Regions from separate parts of the Homo sapiens genome. Here region 1 is linked to region 2. The links come from fine-mapping of genetic effects on gene expression. Tissue or cell type: whole blood. Region 2 holds a variant in brackets; the other region holds the start of a gene. All regions are shown on one strand. Distances are between the middles of the regions.

Region 1 (8,059 bases), 31 kb after region 2:
TCCAGGCTGACCAGAAGAGCGGCAGTTATTTCTTGCTGGCTTTCATGCTTTCTTAGCCTTTTCATATGTGCTTCTACTTTGTCATTTTTGGTTGTTCTCATATGTGTATTTCTAAGGTGTGTTTGAGATTTTAGGTGAGTGAGGAACTAATAAAAATAATTATAGTAATAGCTGATAATTTTTTTTTTTGAGACAGGGTCTCACTCTATTGCCATGGTTGAAGTGTAGTGGTGCAATCACAGCTGACTGTAGCTTCAACCTCCCAGGCTCAAGCAATTCTCCCACTTCAGCCTCCCAAGTAGCTGGTACCACAGGTGCATGCCAACACACCCAGCTAATGAAAACACATTTTTTTTTTTTTTTGTAGAGACAGGATCTCACTATGTCGCTCAGGCTGGTCTTGAACTGCTGGCCTCAAGCAATCCGCCTGCCTCAGCCTCCCAAAATGCTAGGAGCTGGCTAATAATTGTTTAACAGTTATGATATGCCAGGCACCATGCTAAACACTTTGCATACATTATATCATGCATGAATCTTATAAAACACTTATTATTCCCTTTTTGCATATGAGGAAGAGGCTTAGAAAGGAGATTGAGTAACTTGGCCACAGACTCCTAGTTGGTAAATGGTAGAACCTCATTTGACTAACTGCCAAATCCAAGAGTTGATAGCAATGATGCACTGAGTAACAAAATAACAGTGTTTCTCCTACAGTTGAGAGTATGTATAGGGTTCTCTCCAGGGCAAAGGCCTTGCAGTCACCTTGCATGGATACCATGCCTTGGATAGTATCCTTGCATACCACCCTGAATTAATGAATGCTTTACCTGTCTAAGGATATGAATTTATCTACCTTTCACATTGTGCATATACTTAAGAAAAATAAGGCTGGAAGGACAGGGACTAACACTGGAGGCACCAAAAAGACTCTCCTTTTGTAGTTTCTGGGATTGTTGTTGTTGTTGTTGTTATTGTTAAAGAGACATGGTTTCCCTATATTGCCTAGGCTGGAGTGCAGTGGCTATTCACAGATGTCATCCCACTACTGGATAGCACAGCAGTTTTGACCTTCTCCACTTCCAACCTGGGCCAGTTCACCCCTCTTTAGGCAACCTGATGGTCCTGCCCTCCCAAGAGGTCACTGTATTCATGCTGAACTTAGTGCAGACAGTGGATTGATCAATTGATCAGCATAGTGCACCACAGCCCAGAACTCCTGGGCTCAAGCAATCCTCCCACCTCAGGCACTGAGCAGCAAGAACTACAGGTGCACACCACTGAGTCTGGCTACTTTATGTTTTCTTGGGTTGCCTAGATTTATTTTTGAAATAAATTATTACTTTTATAATTAAAAATGGTTATCTTTGGGTTTGGAGATTATAGTTTTAATTTTTTAAATACTTTTCTGTATTTTCTGAATTTTCTAGCAAACATGCATTACTGTTATAAGGTAAAAATATTTTGTAAGCAGGGTGCACATCATTTCCAGTAGAATGCTTGAAATAAAATTTAAAGGATGCCTGGAATTTCATTTCATTCATAAAAAATTATCTGAGAATGAGGTACACGATCTGTATAAACAAAGGAAAATTATCAAAAAGCTATTAGTTTTAATACAAATGTCACAATCACTTGAAAGGTGGAGGAATGAGGTAGTTTTTGTATTCCTAGAAGCTGCCACTGGTTAGAGGTATCCAGCAGCTTATTCCTAATGTAAATGATACCAAGCTAAACTCTGATCGCTGAGATCTTGTGTTTTAGCTTAACCATCCCTTAGCAAGATTGGTTAGTTGTGATAGCAAAAGAGTGCTGAGGATGTGAATTAGGTCCACAGATGAGTCAAGTATCTTCCCCCTGAAATGGGACCACAAACCACACTCTGGCAGGCCACCATCTCACAAAGGCACTAACTTTGATCTAGGAAGGGCCAGTTGAAAGTGTGAATGCATCACCAGGAAAACATCTTCATCACTAAAAAAACAGCTCCATTCCTTCCTCAATATGATGTAGGAATAAAAAAGCACTAACAGGGTCAAGCATGACTTGCTAAACCTTACCTGTCCGGGAGGGGCGCTCTCTGCACCCAACACCTGCCTATAGAACACCGGATCACAGCTCCGCAGCGTGTTCTGGCGGCTGGCCAGTGGACTGGCTGCACCAGGTTTCTTCAGCAGCGGGTCGCTGCGGCGGGAGTCCGTGGTGAGATACACCTGATGGTAAAGGTGCGGCGACATCAGGCCTCCCCGCACGGCGTCCGCGTGCAAGGAGGGCCCTGGTGTTCGGTACAGTGAGCTCACCGGGGCTCGGTATAGGTCTCTAGACTGCTTCCACTTGTAAACTTTGAATATGATTACTCCGAACACTGTGACCACAAACCCCACAGAAACCAGGATTAGAGAAAGAAGTAGATAAAAGGTGAGATTTTTTTTCTGCTCCCGGGGGGCAGAGCCAGAGGGGAACTCGGCTCGGGCTTCAGGAGAGTCCTCGGTTACTGACACAGTGAGGGTAGCAGTGGTGGAGAGCGAAGGCTCCCCATTGTCTTTGATCAAGACCGTGAGAGTCTGCCTGGGTGAATCTGTGTCTTGGACTGGACGGGCAGTACTGATTTGACCAGTGTGCAGCCCTATGGCAAAAAGGCTCTGGTTAGGGGATCCCAAGAGACTGTAGGAGAGCCAGGCATTGTGCCCTGCATCCGCGTCCCAGCCTACCACCCGTGACACTAGGTGGCCAGCTGAGGTACCTCGAGGCAGCATCTCCACCGAGCTCCCACCTGGCCGAGGATATAGGACCTGGGGGGCATTGTCATTGCGATCAGTGACAAATATGTTCACGCTGATGTTGGTGGCTAGGACCGGGGTGCCCCCATCGCTGATATGAGCTGTTAATTCAAATTCCCGCCGATCCTCATAGTCTAGGGGCACTAAGGATGACACTATGCCATTGTCACGATTTATTGTGAAATAGCGACCCACTAGCCCGGTTTCAGCTCCTTGCTCCAAGAGAAAGAAAGAAAGCCGAGCATTCTGCGGGGCGTCGGGGTCCCAGACACTTAGGTTTAGTATTGGAGCCCCGGGGAGGTTGTTTTCTTCAATGTAAACGTCGTAGGAAGATTGAGAAGATTGTGGAGGGTTGTCATTGATGTCGGACACTTGAACACGCACTATTGTAAGGGCTGAGAGGGAAGGGGTTCCGGCGTCTCGGGCGGTGATGCTGAGGTTGTATTCTGGCACAGTCTCCCGATCCAGGTCTGCACTGGTTTTCAAAGTGAAGTAATTCTTGAGGGAAGAAGTAAGGCTGAAAGGGAGACCCGGTGGAACTTCGCAGGTCACCAGCCCGTTCTCGCCAGCATCCAGGTCAGTCACACTGAGCAAAGCGATGACAGTCCCCAGAGGGGCATCCTCGGGTACTGGGCTGTACACGGAGGTGACTGTGATCTCCGGGGCGTTGTCATTCACATCCACAACCTCCACCAACACTTTGCAATGTGCTCCTTCGGGATTGGCGCCCTTGTCTTTGGCCTGGATGTAAATCTCATGGAGTTTGGTGTCCTCGAAGTCCAGCCGACCCTTGATTGTCAGCATCCCGGTTACAAGGTCTAAGGCGAATAGTTGCCGCACGCCGGCGCGGTTGTGGCTGCCGAAGGAGTAAATAATTTCACCGTTGGGGCCTTCATCCAGATCCGTTGCAAGGACTTGTACCACGCGCGTGCCGGAGGGTGCATCCTCCAGGACGCGCGCCCGGTACAAGGACTGGTTGAAGACAGGCGCATTGTCATTCGCGTCCAGCACCTTGATGTGAATAGGCAGGCTGGCGGAGAGAGCTGGGGTCCCTCCGTCCAACGCCGTCAGCACTAACTGGAGACTAGGCTCCCGTTCTCGGTCCAGGGCGCGCTCCAACACCAGCTCCGCGTACTTGGTGCTGTCCTCCCGCGTCTGCACGCGAAGCGCAAAGTATTCATTTCGGCTCAGCTCATAGGTTTGTAAAGAGTTGCTTCCCACATCGGGATCGTGCGCGCTCTCGAGCGGAAAGCGCGTCCCCGGAGCCACGGCCTCGCTAATCTCCAATTTCATTTCCTGGGTAGGGAAAGCAGGATTGTTGTCGTTGATGTCCTGGATCACCACTTCCACGCTGAACAGCTCCAGCGGGTTCTCCACTACCAACTCCAGAGTTACAGTGCAAGAGGGCAGTGTCCCACACAGCTCCTCTCGATCCAGACGGTCGTTCACAAACATCTCTCCGGTCTCCCGGTTCACCTCAAAGAATCTTCGGCTAGCTCCAGACACCACCCGGAACCTGCGGGCTGAGAGGCTACCGAGATCCAAACCAAGGTTCGCGACCACGTTGCCCACAGCGAAACCCTTCTCTCTTTCCTCCGGGATCTCATAGTGAATGACCGTGGAAGCCTTGTTCAAGGCACCAAGCAGAAGCAAAACTCCCACTACCCTCCCGGTGCTTACCAGTCCGCTCCTCCAGGCCTCTGGGACCATCTCACTCAAAAGCAGTTCCTCTCAGCGGGGTCCAGATCGTCCCTGAGATTTCGCTGAGAAACTTTCAGCGGGTTAGCGCTTGGGCGCTGGGCGCCGAGTCCGACATGGCTTTCTGGATGCCGTTGATTTGCTCGCCGGCTGTTCAGTCTCTGCCTCATCCCGGGGCGCAGAAAGGGGACGGGCAGGGGCCCGATCTCCAGCGTCTTCATTGGCCGACAGCGGCACACAGAGTCCCAGCCAATAACTGCACGAAGAATGAGCTAGCGCCGGGCTCTCTGAGCAGGACACGCGCTAGCGCCAGGAACTTCACTTTCCTTTGGCTTCCTTCCAGAGTTTCCAGCCAAAGCGCCTTGCCAGTATCGGTGCATAGGAAACCTACCTTAGGGAAAGCCAGCCTTGGGGCTGTGAGGCTAGCCGTTCTGCAAGTCTCCAATCCAAATCAAGACTCATTAAACATTTGAATCACTTTCTTTGATCACAAGAAAGGGGATCGAACCAAACCGAAAACTACACAACATTGTCTGGAAAAACACCAACAAATCTGGCTTGTTGGAAGACAGACAATTAGCCGGACCCTACTTGTAAGGAGGCATTTAGCATTTCCGTGGAGACATTAATAATTTCAGTTTTATCTCTTACCAAATGAAATTAGCATTCCCTGTCACTTCCTCATTATCTGGAGCTACTATCAAATTAGCAGGAGTTACAATCTATTGGTTTAACTCTGGCTTATAAAATTTAAAAGTACAATTCAGATTTTATTTCTTTTAAAACTGGATGTCATTGTTAGCTCTCATTTCTTAAGAACCAGGGAGCAATAAGAAATTTCCCTACCCTGTCTTTCACAAGGAGCATGATCTCAGTTGTAGAGCACACTCTCTCTATCGTTTCCCTTTACTTGATCAATCCTTTTCCCAAGATCTTGGGTACCATATGCCACAAGAAGTTGCACTGCTAATGAAGAAGAAGACGGAGAAGATTTCAAAAAGAAAAAAAGCCAGGCCTATTTACCACCTAGGATCTTTATAAAATTATTGAAATAATGGCAGCAAAGCTCCACAAATCTTTAGAAAATACAAAGCCTTTAGTCACAGAATAAAGAGCCTTAACTTTTCTGCATTTAGAATTGTTGTCACCAAACAAAATTATAATGATTAGGATAGTGAATAAAAGAGTCCACTGTGATATAAGCCAGAGATGAGATGTATATCCTTGAACAAGAAATGAACCTCTAAGAGTTCCTGCTCCTATCCTATTAAATGAAGAAGGCAGGTAAAGTGCCTGGCACAGAGTAAGCCTCAATTAATGATGCAAACCACTCCATTAGATGTAAAGTGTTAGAGCCTCATACTATTTCTGTATATTTGTCTTGGACATCACTTTGATTGCATAGAGTCCTTTTGAAGTATAATAGAACCTTGAACATAAGTGAAGGGGTAGGCACATAGGTTAGGTAGGTAGAAAAGAAGTAAGGATATATAGGATATTTCCGGAAGAGATGAAAAGCCATATGTGACCTATATTTCCATGTCTTTAACACTTCAATTAATCTCTGAAAACCCCCAGTTTTAAATGCTCAAGTTTGATAATTAGCCAGACCAGCAAGAGGGCTGATAGGCATTAGAAGATAGAATACATTTAGAATTTAGAATAAAGAGTATAGCCCAATCACTTGCTACTCAAAGTGTGAGGACCAATGGTCTAGGCATCACCGGGGAGCTTGTTAGAAATGCAGAAATGCCCTCCTCTAGACCTACTGAGACATGACTTACATTTTAACAAAACATCAGGGTGATTTGAAAACACATTAAAGTTTGACAAGCACTGATCTAGTGGGTTATTCAGAGATACACTGGTTTATCAGTCTTTTTTTCCCCTATTCAGCATCACTTAATTCACAATCTGGTTTTTGAAAATCAGCTTTTAAAAATGTAAGTAGTTTTCTCAATAATAAGGCCTGTCATTTTCTTGATAATAAGGCCTGTAGTTTTCTGAGATTTTCGTTGTTGTTGTTTTTGTTGTTGTTTGTTTTTTGGTTTTTGTTTCTGAGGCAGGATCTCGCTCTGTCATCCAGGCTGGAGTACAGTGGAATAATCATAGCTCACTGTAACTTCCAGCTCCTTGGGCTCAAGGGATCCTCCCGCCTCAGACTTCTAAGTAGATGGGACTACAGGCCTGAGCTACTGCACCCAGCTCATAGTTTTCTTAAGACCTCTTCATGAACCAACAGAACCCTTGTGTATGCATTCTCCACAATAGCGAGGTTCATCTTCCTAAAATTTTAATTGGATCACACAATTGTCCAGCTGCTCCTCAGTAGCATCATACTGCTCTTGAATTAAAATACCAAATCCTTTGCATAGTATCCAAGTTCTCATGTCTTCTCCCTCTCTCACTATATTCCATTGCACCACTTGGAGGGTGGTCAGAACCCCAGCCCTTCCCTGTCTCAGGGCCTTCACACAAATTGTTCCTTTGCCAGGAAAGCTGCTTTTTCCTCCCTCCCTTTGCTTTGCTAATTTCTACAGGTCTGTCTGGTCTTAGTTTAAATGTTATTTCCTAATAGAGGTCTTCCATTAGGCCCCAGTTAAAACCAGGATCCTTTGTTATGCTCTCTCAGAACACCTTATATTTTTTCCATTGAACTTGGCACAACTTTAAATTTTATAATTATTTTTGCATAAGCAAAGTATCTGCTTCCCCCACTGAAGAAGAAAAAAAGAAGCTCCAGGAGGGCAGGGACCATGCTATTTTGGTGGCCACTTGCATCCTCACTGTCTAGCACAGCAGGCACTTAATGCTTATTAATATAGCAATCTTTATGCTACTGACATAGTAAAATAATCATAGCATACACTAAGGACTATATATGTATTCACTTGTGTGGATCCAATCTCCCTGGAAGTAAGCATTTTTTAGAAGATACATTTACTCCTTCAAGTTACCAGTGGGCCTTCCTAGCCCTAGTGATCTGAAGAGATAATATAGTTTGCCAAAGAGCCAAGTAAAGTGTGGTAATACAACTCACAGTGGATAATAAACAAAGATGCTGTAACTTGTTGTATCACTTCTTTCTTTCTTTCCTTCCTTCCTTCCTTCTTTCTTTTTCTTTTTCTTTCTTTTTTTTTTTTTTTTTGAGTTTCACTCTTGTTCCCCAGGCTGGAGTGCAATGGCATAATCTTGGCTCACCACAACCTCCTCCTCTTGGGTTCAAGCAATTCTCCTGCCTCAGCCTCCCGAGTAGCTGGGAATACAGGCATGTGCCACCATGCCCAGCTAATTTTCTATTTTTAGTAGAGACGGGGGTTTCTCCATGTTGGTCAGGCTGATCTTGAACTCCCAACCTCAGGTGATCTGCCAGCCTCCGCCTCCCAAAGTGCTGGGATTACAGGTGTGAGCCACAGCGCCTGGCCTGTATCACTTATTTCTAGGGGAAATGGAAGGACCAGTATACAGGATTTATATACTGATTCAACACAATTTCCCAGTCTTTATCTTTTTTCTTCTTTGTTTTATAATTTCAAGAGAGCTTCTGACCAATGAGATGCAGCATTTATAATATAATTTTTTTT
Region 2 (8,059 bases):
GGGAAGGGGTAGGTGCTGACTGGGCACTTGTTTCTGTTTCCCAAGGGGAGCATGGCCTTGGCCCCTACCAGTATTCTGGGGGTTAGCCCTGAAACTCTGAGGCCTGGGTGCAGGTAAGGAGAAGCTGGGCTGGTTGGGGAGAGGCCGCCCTGTGGCTCTTGGCCTGGCCTCCATGTTACTTCTTCTCCTTCTTGCCCGACTTCTTCTTGTTGCCATTGCCACCTGCTGGGGCCTTGCCATCCCGCTTGCCAGCTGCGTTGGTCAGTGTGGCATTGCTGCCTGGGATGTAGACATTCTGGCGGTAGTCGGGCACGTGCTGCAGGGTGAACTGGGGTCCGTAGCGGGCGCTCAATCCCATGGTGCCGGCACCCCCTCCCAGGGTGGAGCTCCCATCAGCAGCTTCTGCAGAGACAGAGGAAGATCAGGTGGGAGCTAAACTTAGGGTCCTCAACAGTCACTGTCTTATATCCCCAGCAGTTAATGAATGCCTATACAGCACCCTGGGCCTTGACCACGCTGAGCACTGGGAATATAGGGGTCACCAAGGTAGTCTCTCTTCACAAGAGTTGAGGGTAGAGGTTAAGAGGCTCTGGAGTGAGAAAGTCTAGGTTTGATTCCTAGCTCCTTTCCTTACTCACTGTGATCCTGGGCAAGTCTACCTAACCTCCTTATGCCACTTCAGTTTTCTCATCTGCAAAATGGGGATGATAATGGTAACCACCTCTTCTGGTTTTAGTGAATGCTAAATAAGAAAATGTATGTCAGGTACGTAAAATAGTGCCTGGTAGATGTAAGTGCTCAAAACACATTCGCTGGTATTTCTCTCAGGGCTGTGACACGGGCTCTCAGTTCCTTGCCCTGGCTTTCTCAAGGGAGCCTCTGACTCCCACACTAGACCATGGGCTCCTGGAGGGCAGCAGCCATGAAACCATGGCTTTACATGCCCCTAGCCTTTGCCAAGCAAGGCCTGGCACGAGTAGAGATTCGGTAGTTCCGTTAGTAAGTGTGTGGGGTGGGGGTGAAGAGTGCTCTTCCAAGCCTCCATTTCAAAACAGCATTTTTTTTTTTTTTTTTTTAAGATGGAGTCCTGCTCTGTCGCCCAGCCTGGAGTGCAGTGGCGCGATCCCGGCTCACTGCAACCTCTGCCTCCTGGGCTCAAGTGATTCTCCTGCCTCAACCTCCTGAGTAGCTGAGATTACAGGTGCACACCACTAGCCCAGCTAATTTTTGTATTTCAAAACAGCATTTGAGCACCTACTGTGTGCCAGGCACTCTGCTGGATGCTTCACATGCACAATCACTTTTAACCTCTACATAACAGCCCAGCCAGCTATGTGGTATGACCCTCATTTTACAGATGAGGGAACCAAGTGTTAGAAGGACCAAGGCCATACCCGGTAGCATTTGTTAGAGGGGCATTCAGGCCCAAGTGTACCTAAGCGCATGCTGGAAGGGACAGTCAGTCACCATCACCACCAGCAGCTTGGACCTTATCCCTGTTCTGAGTGAATGGGAGGTAGAGAGAAGATGGAGAAGAGCTCGGCTCTATGAAGCTGAGGAGATGATGATCTCGGGGACTAGACATCTCAGGGACACTTTAGGCACAGGCTCAGAGTGCCACAGCTAGGTGACATCAGACAGCACCTCCAGTCCAACGTCCCACTGTACAGAAGAAGAAACTGGGGCCCAGAGAAGTCCACACTCTGGCCCTGGCTCAGCATCACCCAGGAACTTGTTTAGAATGCAGCCTCTCGGAATTGCCAGCTGATTTGTACGCACTGTGAAGGCTGCTGTGAGGACTAAATGAGATGGTGCTTCATCCTGTGCAATACATCATCAACACCGTCACATCCAGCATGCCATCACCTCTACCCCTCACCTGCCCTGACTGGGTCGGGGGTGGGAGAGGAGGAAACAAGAGTTTGACTCATTGGGGCTCGCTGCTGGAGGCCCTGAGATCCTCTGTGGTTAGGAGACAGTTAAAACCTCAGGGATGCCCAGGCCAGCCCAGGCCCAGCTGGCAGTAGAGCTTCTCTCCCAGCCTCCCTCTGCCTCCACCCTGGACCCTGGGAGCGGGTAGCGAGAGTGACTAAAGCCGGAGAGGCTGAGTAATCCTGGGACATCAACCAGGGATTGAGAAATAGAGAGACAGGAAATATTTTCAAGCCGGCATAAGAGGAGGAGGGCACACGGGAGGGGAGAGCCGGGATGCGCCTCGGTTTTTCTCTTCACGCACCAGCGCTCAGGTTTCTACAGCCCCCATTTCATGTCGCAAATCCCCGGAGCTGAGAGCTTTCTGGGGGCGGGGGAGAGGGGTTGAGTGGGAGGGAGCAGCTGCCCACTTCCTCCTCTCCTACCCCAGCTGGCCCCCACCCCCAGCCCTTTCATTCCGCTGACATTTCTCTGTTTTCCCTAATTAACTCCAAAAGGAAGCCAGATCCGCCACCGCCCCGCCCCCTCCCCTCCAGCCGTCAGCCTCTTCAGCCTTTCCCAGCCTGGGAATGGAAGGGGTAGGGGAGGGGGGCCCAGATCTGGCTTCAAAGAGCCAGGATTCCAGAGTGATTTAGGGGCTAGAGGGGGGACCTCAGAGGCGCCAGAGAAAGAGCGGGGTGGGGGGTGTAGTCTCCCTGCACACAGAAAAGAATGAGGAGGAACACGGAGAAGCAGGGAGAAGGGAGGCAGAGACAGAATGACAGGAAGGGCCTGACGGAGTAGCTAGAAGCTCGGCCCACCCACGTCCTATGTGCACCCAAGATCTCTGAGTAGCACCCCGAGTGGGTGCAAGTGACAAAGCCATCCCCCGCCCACCTCGTGGGGGGTGCCCTGAGGTTGGGCTGGACCAGGAGGGAGAGAAGATATGGAAATCCAGAATGTAAAAGAAAGAGAATATTTGCTCTGCTCTGCCACTAAGGAACTGTGTGAGCTTGGTCAAGTCTCTGCGTGGCTCAAGCCTGTTTTCCCATCTATAAATCTGAGGGGAAGAAGTTGGATTGCCAGCTTTGACTTTCTGTAGAGTCAGTTCTCCAGTGCCCCTCCCTCTACACCCCACTCCCCCCAAGGCCCACCTTGGTCAAGGACCGGGATTTTCTCTTGGTCCCAGGAGAGGCAGACTTAGGAGAGCCTCAAGAAGCTGGACATCTTCTGGCCTGGACGAGGTGGGGGTGATGCCTTCTCTCCTGTGCCAGCCTCTACTCAGGGAAACTCAGCCCCCAGCTCCCTGACCTCCCTCTGTCCTCTTAACCTACCCCATCCCAGGGCCAAGGCAGCAACTCCAGAGTAGCCCAAGGAGGCTGATTAGCTGGAACACAGCTGGCTGAGCTGCAAACCGCAGCCTCCTTGAGAGCATCCCTCCCCGCAGATGTTTATTTTAAAAGCCTCCTCCCAAGTGTCGGTTTTTACTCTCCCTCTTACTTAACCCCTCTCAGCAGCCCCACAGGCCTGGCTGGGCTGGACTTCAGGAACCTCTCTGGTTTCAGGGCTAGGAAGCGGGTGTGAAAGTGAGAGCAGGGCCTGACCCACCACCTCCACCCCCAGGGTCCGTTCCCCAGGGCGCAGGCTTAGACGAGGGTCAGGCCCTGTGTGGGCCAAAGGTGGGAGGCCTTGACAGGGGAACGAGCTGCATGACTTGCTTGGAGGGTTTGGGGCCATAAATACTGATTTCATTTCTG[T/G]TTTTAACATCTGGATTTAGGCTAAAAAGCTGCTTCCTGGCCTCAGGGCGCAAGGCCACAACAGCTAAATATACCTGTTTATTTCCCTCAAGAGGCCAACTTGGCATCTCCTCAGACCCAGCCGCCTGCCACTTTCATACTCAGTCTCTGGCCTCTCTGGAATCATAGCCCCACCAGACCTGGGACAGCTCTGCCTCAGGAGGCCAGCAGTCCCTGCCACCTCTCTCTCTGTCCTTCCGTCAGCTGTAGGCCTGGCCCCACTTAACCTCACAGACATCTGGGGTAGAGTTGCCAGATTTAGTAAATAAAAGTACAGGGCTCCCAGTTAAATTTGAATTTCAGGTAAACAATGAGCATTTTTTTTTTTAGTACATTATGTCTCATGCAACATTTGAGACTGACTTATGCTGAAATAGTACTTGCTGTTTATCTGACATTCAACTGTAACTGGGCATCCTGTATTTTATCTGGCAACCCTGATCTGGAAGAATAAAGCAGAGCTCGAGGAAGAGGACAGCCTCTCATCCTGCTCAGGTAATAGAGAAGCCGAGGCTGGATCCAAAGGCAGCCATGGTCCCTATAGTAGAAAGAGCATAAACTTAGGAGTTGAGCCAGGTTAGAACCTCAGCTTGGCAGCTCAAAACTGAGGACCCTGGGGCAAGTGCCTTCTCGGTTCTCTCATCTGTCGAGTGTGAGAAATCAGACCTGCCTTGCAGAGCTATTGAGAGGATTCATTGACAGGAGGCCCCTAAAGTTTGTTTAGTATGTGCCCAGGTGTGATGACAGTGCTTCTTGTGATTTCACCTGGTTCTCTACCCACCAGTCCTCCAGACATGCTGGAGGGCAGGGCTATCAGTTCATGATATAGGGCAATGCCTTGATCCTCTGCCAGCCTCCTTATAAGCCCAGGATTTGCTGCTCCAGAAGCTAGTCTTTATTAATAGGCATTATTCTAATTCTGCTTTCTACCCAGTAAAAAACGGGTTTGGGTCAGCAAAGATAATAATATATTGTGCCCTTACTCTCTGCCAATCCTGTGCTGAGGGACTTGCATTTGGCCCTGGTAACACCACAATGAGATCCGTTAATACTGTGCCCATTAATAGTAAGTGAAACCGAGGGGGTTTAATAACTTACCTAAGGACTCATTGCTAAGTGGTGGTGCCAGGTGCCAGGATTTGAATCCAGATTGGCCTGCCTCTAAAGCCTGTGCTCTTTTTTTTTTTTTTTTTTTTTGAGACAGAGCGAGACTGTTGCCCAGGCTGGAGTGCAGTGGTGCGATTTTCTGCTCACCACAGCCACCTCCCAGGTTCAAGCGATTCTCCTGCCTCAGCCTCCCAAGTAGCTGGGACTACAGGCACGCACCACCATGCCCAGCTAATTTTTGTATTTTTAGTAGAGACAGGGTTTCACTATGTTGGCCAGGCCGGTTTCGAACTCCTGACCTCATGATCCTCCTGCCTCAGCTTCCCAAAGTGCTGGGATTACAGGCGTGAGCCACCACGCCCAGCTTAGGCTGTGCTCTTAAGGACAAATGATATTCTTCTTCTCCTGCTCTGGGCCCTAGTGACTCTTCAGGGACAACCACCACTAGCCGAATCTCTATTACAAAGGAAGCCCTTAGTCAACCTTATGGGAAAACCAGAATCCTACTCTGGAGTTAGGGGCAGCAAAAGAGGAGCCTCGCATAAAGAGGAGGTGTTCTCTCGGCTGGGGATTTCTACACCCACTTTCATTGCTTGAGGGCTTCCAAGCGCCAGGCCCAGAACTCTATGCTTTGTGGTATCATCTCATTTAATCTCTACAACAACCCTTTGGGGTCCCTGTCCCCACTTTCTAGGCTGAGGAAACTGAGGTTTAGAGAGATTGAGCAAGTCGATCCAAGTCCCAAGGATAGTAGCAGAGCTAGGACCTGAGCTACACTGTCCCATTCCAGAGCTAGACTTGTAACCACTATTCCCTCCATGAGTCTTTTCCTTGTTCGCTCTCCTCCAGGCATCCCAGGACCCCCAACCCCTCTGCTGTTCCTTAGCCACAATTCCAGGCTTTATGTTTGGAATTGTGGGTCCTTTCAGACCTGCCGAAAGATCTGGAGAAACTACACAGGTTTGACATCCAGTCCGTGGGCATGGTGGCTGTGAGATGCACCCCAGAACCCCAGGTCTCCCACTCTTCCATACACACACTGACACCACTTACCACTGGCGGACGCCAAGATCATGGCTTGCAGCATCTCTGTGTCAAACTGGTTGTTGGGCCAGGTGCCGGTGTCATCGCCATTTTGGGAGCTGGGGAGAGAGTAGGATGGTGAGCACAGACTCCCAGGCCGGCACAGCTCATGCCCCTCCTGTCCTCTCCCAGGGCTCCCAAACCTAGTACCCTAACCCTACCCCATGCCCAAGACCTGTTTCTCTCAGCAAGGTAGGAGGCACTTCTACAATCCTTCAGAAGCCAGAATCCCACAAGTCAGTCCCTCAAACCAGCTCTTTGCTGCCTCCGATGCTTTTTTCTTTTTGTTTTAGACAGGGTCTTACTCTGTCATCCAGGCTGGAGTGCAGTGGCGCGATCTTGGCTCATTGCAACATCCACCTCCTGGGTTCAAGCGATTCTCCTGCCTCAGTCTCCCAAGTAGCTGGGATGACAGGCACCTGCCACTGTGCCAGGCTAATTTTTGTATTTTTAGTACAGACGGGGTTTCACCATGTTGGCCAGGCTGGTCCAATGCATTGAACATAGTGCATTCCCCCACCCACCATGAGAGAGCCTGGCTTCCTGTCATAGTGAGGGAGATCAGACCTTCTCCAGAGGACTGTGAAGGTGGGAAATGGAAGAGAATGTTCCAGAGCTAGAGAAAAAGTGGGGACCTAGGAGGTACCTAGGGGGAGATGTAGGAGGCCCCAAGAGACCCTGGAGCAGGGAGAAGAAATTTCTAAAATTCAATGGCTTCCTAAGCCCTCAGAGTAAAATCCACGGCCATAGAAGAACCTGCCCCTCCTATTTTACAAGAACCCCCACCCCCCGCCCTCAAACACTCTATCATCAAACCTTTTCCAAGGTGCACTTTCCTATCCCTCAAGTTCCCTCTTGCTGTGAATCCTGGGCAGATGGTGTTCCCTAGAATGCCAGTCCCCCAACATTTGCCATGATGACACGAATAAAATATATCAGAGGAGATCCACTCAGACTGGGCAGGTGCCTCCACTGTACTCCCATCCCAGCGGCTGCCCCACATGGCACTAGTCACACTGCAGCTGTTGTAGTGCCTGTCTGTTCCTCCACCACACTGGCTTCTGTGAGGCAGCGACTCCACCTGCTTCCTACTGAAGCACCTAGCACAAAGCCTAGCACTTGGACCTAAGTGAGACTTTTAGAAACTCCGAGTGTTGAAAAAACATGAAATGATTCATAATTTAAAAAAATACTAAACCATAAGAAGAACTCTCTGCTTCTTAGAAGGTTCAGCTCTACTTGGAATTTTCCCACAGTGACAATTTTCATGATTTTTTTGAATTTCCAAGGATGAAATTATTTCAATTTGCAGGGGAGTGTTGGCGGGAAACAGCCCTGGCACACACACAGTCTGCCCTTTAGGTAACTGTTTGGCACCATCTGGCTCAGAGAAGTTTTTCAATAAATATTTGTTGCCTAAATGAGTGGGAAGAGACCAGCAGAGACAGTTAAGTGACTGTAAGGTAAGAAGAAGGGTTTGGCACCATGGGAAAGGCTGTAGGGTAGGCCTTGAAGGCATGAAAATGTCTGTGTGTGTGTTGCGTTGTGTGTGTGCATATTTTGTCATGGTGGGTGAGCACAACCAAGAACTGCTTTACAATTTTTCCAAGGTCTGTCCCTGCTTTTGGTTTTGCCCAATCTGGGATTCCCCGTCCCTAAGTAGATGAACTCAGCCTAAGAACAGACACAAGGCTGCCATGTGTGACCTCTATACCATCACAACAAACATAAAGCTAGGGTTGAAGGGGAAAGCAGGAATCTCAATTCTCCTTCCCAAAAGTGGGAAGAGTTGTAATTCTGTTTCCATTGATTCAATAATTATTTCTTTTCTTTTTTCTTTTTTTTTTTTTTTTGAGCTGGAGTCTCGCTCTGTCACCCAGGCTGGAGTACAGTGGCGCGATCTCGGCTCACTGCAACCTCTGCCTCCCAGGTTCAAGTGATTCTCCTGCCTCAGCCTCTTGAGCAGCTGGGACGACAAGTGCACACATGCCACCATGCCCAGCGAATTTTTGTATTTTTAGTAGAGATGGGGTTTCACCATATTGGCCAGGTTGGTTTCGAACTCCTGACCTCATGATCCACCTGCCTCCGCTTCCCAAAGTGCTGGAATTACAGGCGTGAGCCACCGCGCCCCTCCAACAATTCTTTCTTGAGCAATTTCT

The links. PIP is the estimated chance that this variant, and not a neighbour inherited with it, causes the effect.
Region 1: it holds the start of PCDHGC3, and the variant in region 2 is fine-mapped to the expression of PCDHGC3 in whole blood (TOPMed, PIP above 0.99). The same link has a PIP of 0.9 or more in blood mononuclear cells.

The regions. Positions count from the first base shown.
Region 1 is chr5:141,472,545-141,480,603 of GRCh38, reverse strand. PCDHGC3 (protocadherin gamma subfamily C, 3) reads right to left here and starts at 4,638. Exons shown (of 4, transcript NM_002588.4): 1 at 2,058-4,638. The coding sequence starts at 4,487. All of the region lies in intron 1 of PCDHGA1 (protocadherin gamma subfamily A, 1), which reads right to left. The region is part of intron 1 of PCDHGA2 (protocadherin gamma subfamily A, 2); the gene reads right to left. All of the region lies in intron 1 of PCDHGA3 (protocadherin gamma subfamily A, 3), which reads right to left. It also overlaps PCDHGB1, PCDHGA4, PCDHGB2, PCDHGA5, PCDHGB3 and PCDHGA6, and 12 more genes. RefSeq lists enhancers at 3,788-4,331, 4,789-4,898.
Region 2 is chr5:141,503,290-141,511,348 of GRCh38, reverse strand. It overlaps PCDHGA1 (protocadherin gamma subfamily A, 1), which reads right to left. Exons shown (of 4, transcript NM_018912.3): 3 at 5,868-5,956; 4 at 1-402. The coding sequence ends at 176. It overlaps PCDHGA2 (protocadherin gamma subfamily A, 2), which reads right to left. Exons shown (of 4, transcript NM_018915.4): 3 at 5,868-5,956; 4 at 1-402. The coding sequence ends at 176. PCDHGA3 (protocadherin gamma subfamily A, 3) reads right to left here. Exons shown (of 4, transcript NM_018916.4): 3 at 5,868-5,956; 4 at 1-402. The coding sequence ends at 176. It overlaps PCDHGB1 (protocadherin gamma subfamily B, 1), which reads right to left. Exons shown (of 4, transcript NM_018922.3): 3 at 5,868-5,956; 4 at 1-402. The coding sequence ends at 176. It also overlaps PCDHGA4, PCDHGB2, PCDHGA5, PCDHGB3, PCDHGA6 and PCDHGA7, and 13 more genes. Among named protein-coding and RNA genes, the nearest start is that of PCDHGC5, 18 kb to the right of the region's middle. RefSeq lists enhancers at 54-163, 744-833, 2,144-2,193, 2,008-2,508, 3,364-3,413 and 1 more. The variant T/G (reference allele first, on the strand shown) is at 3,669.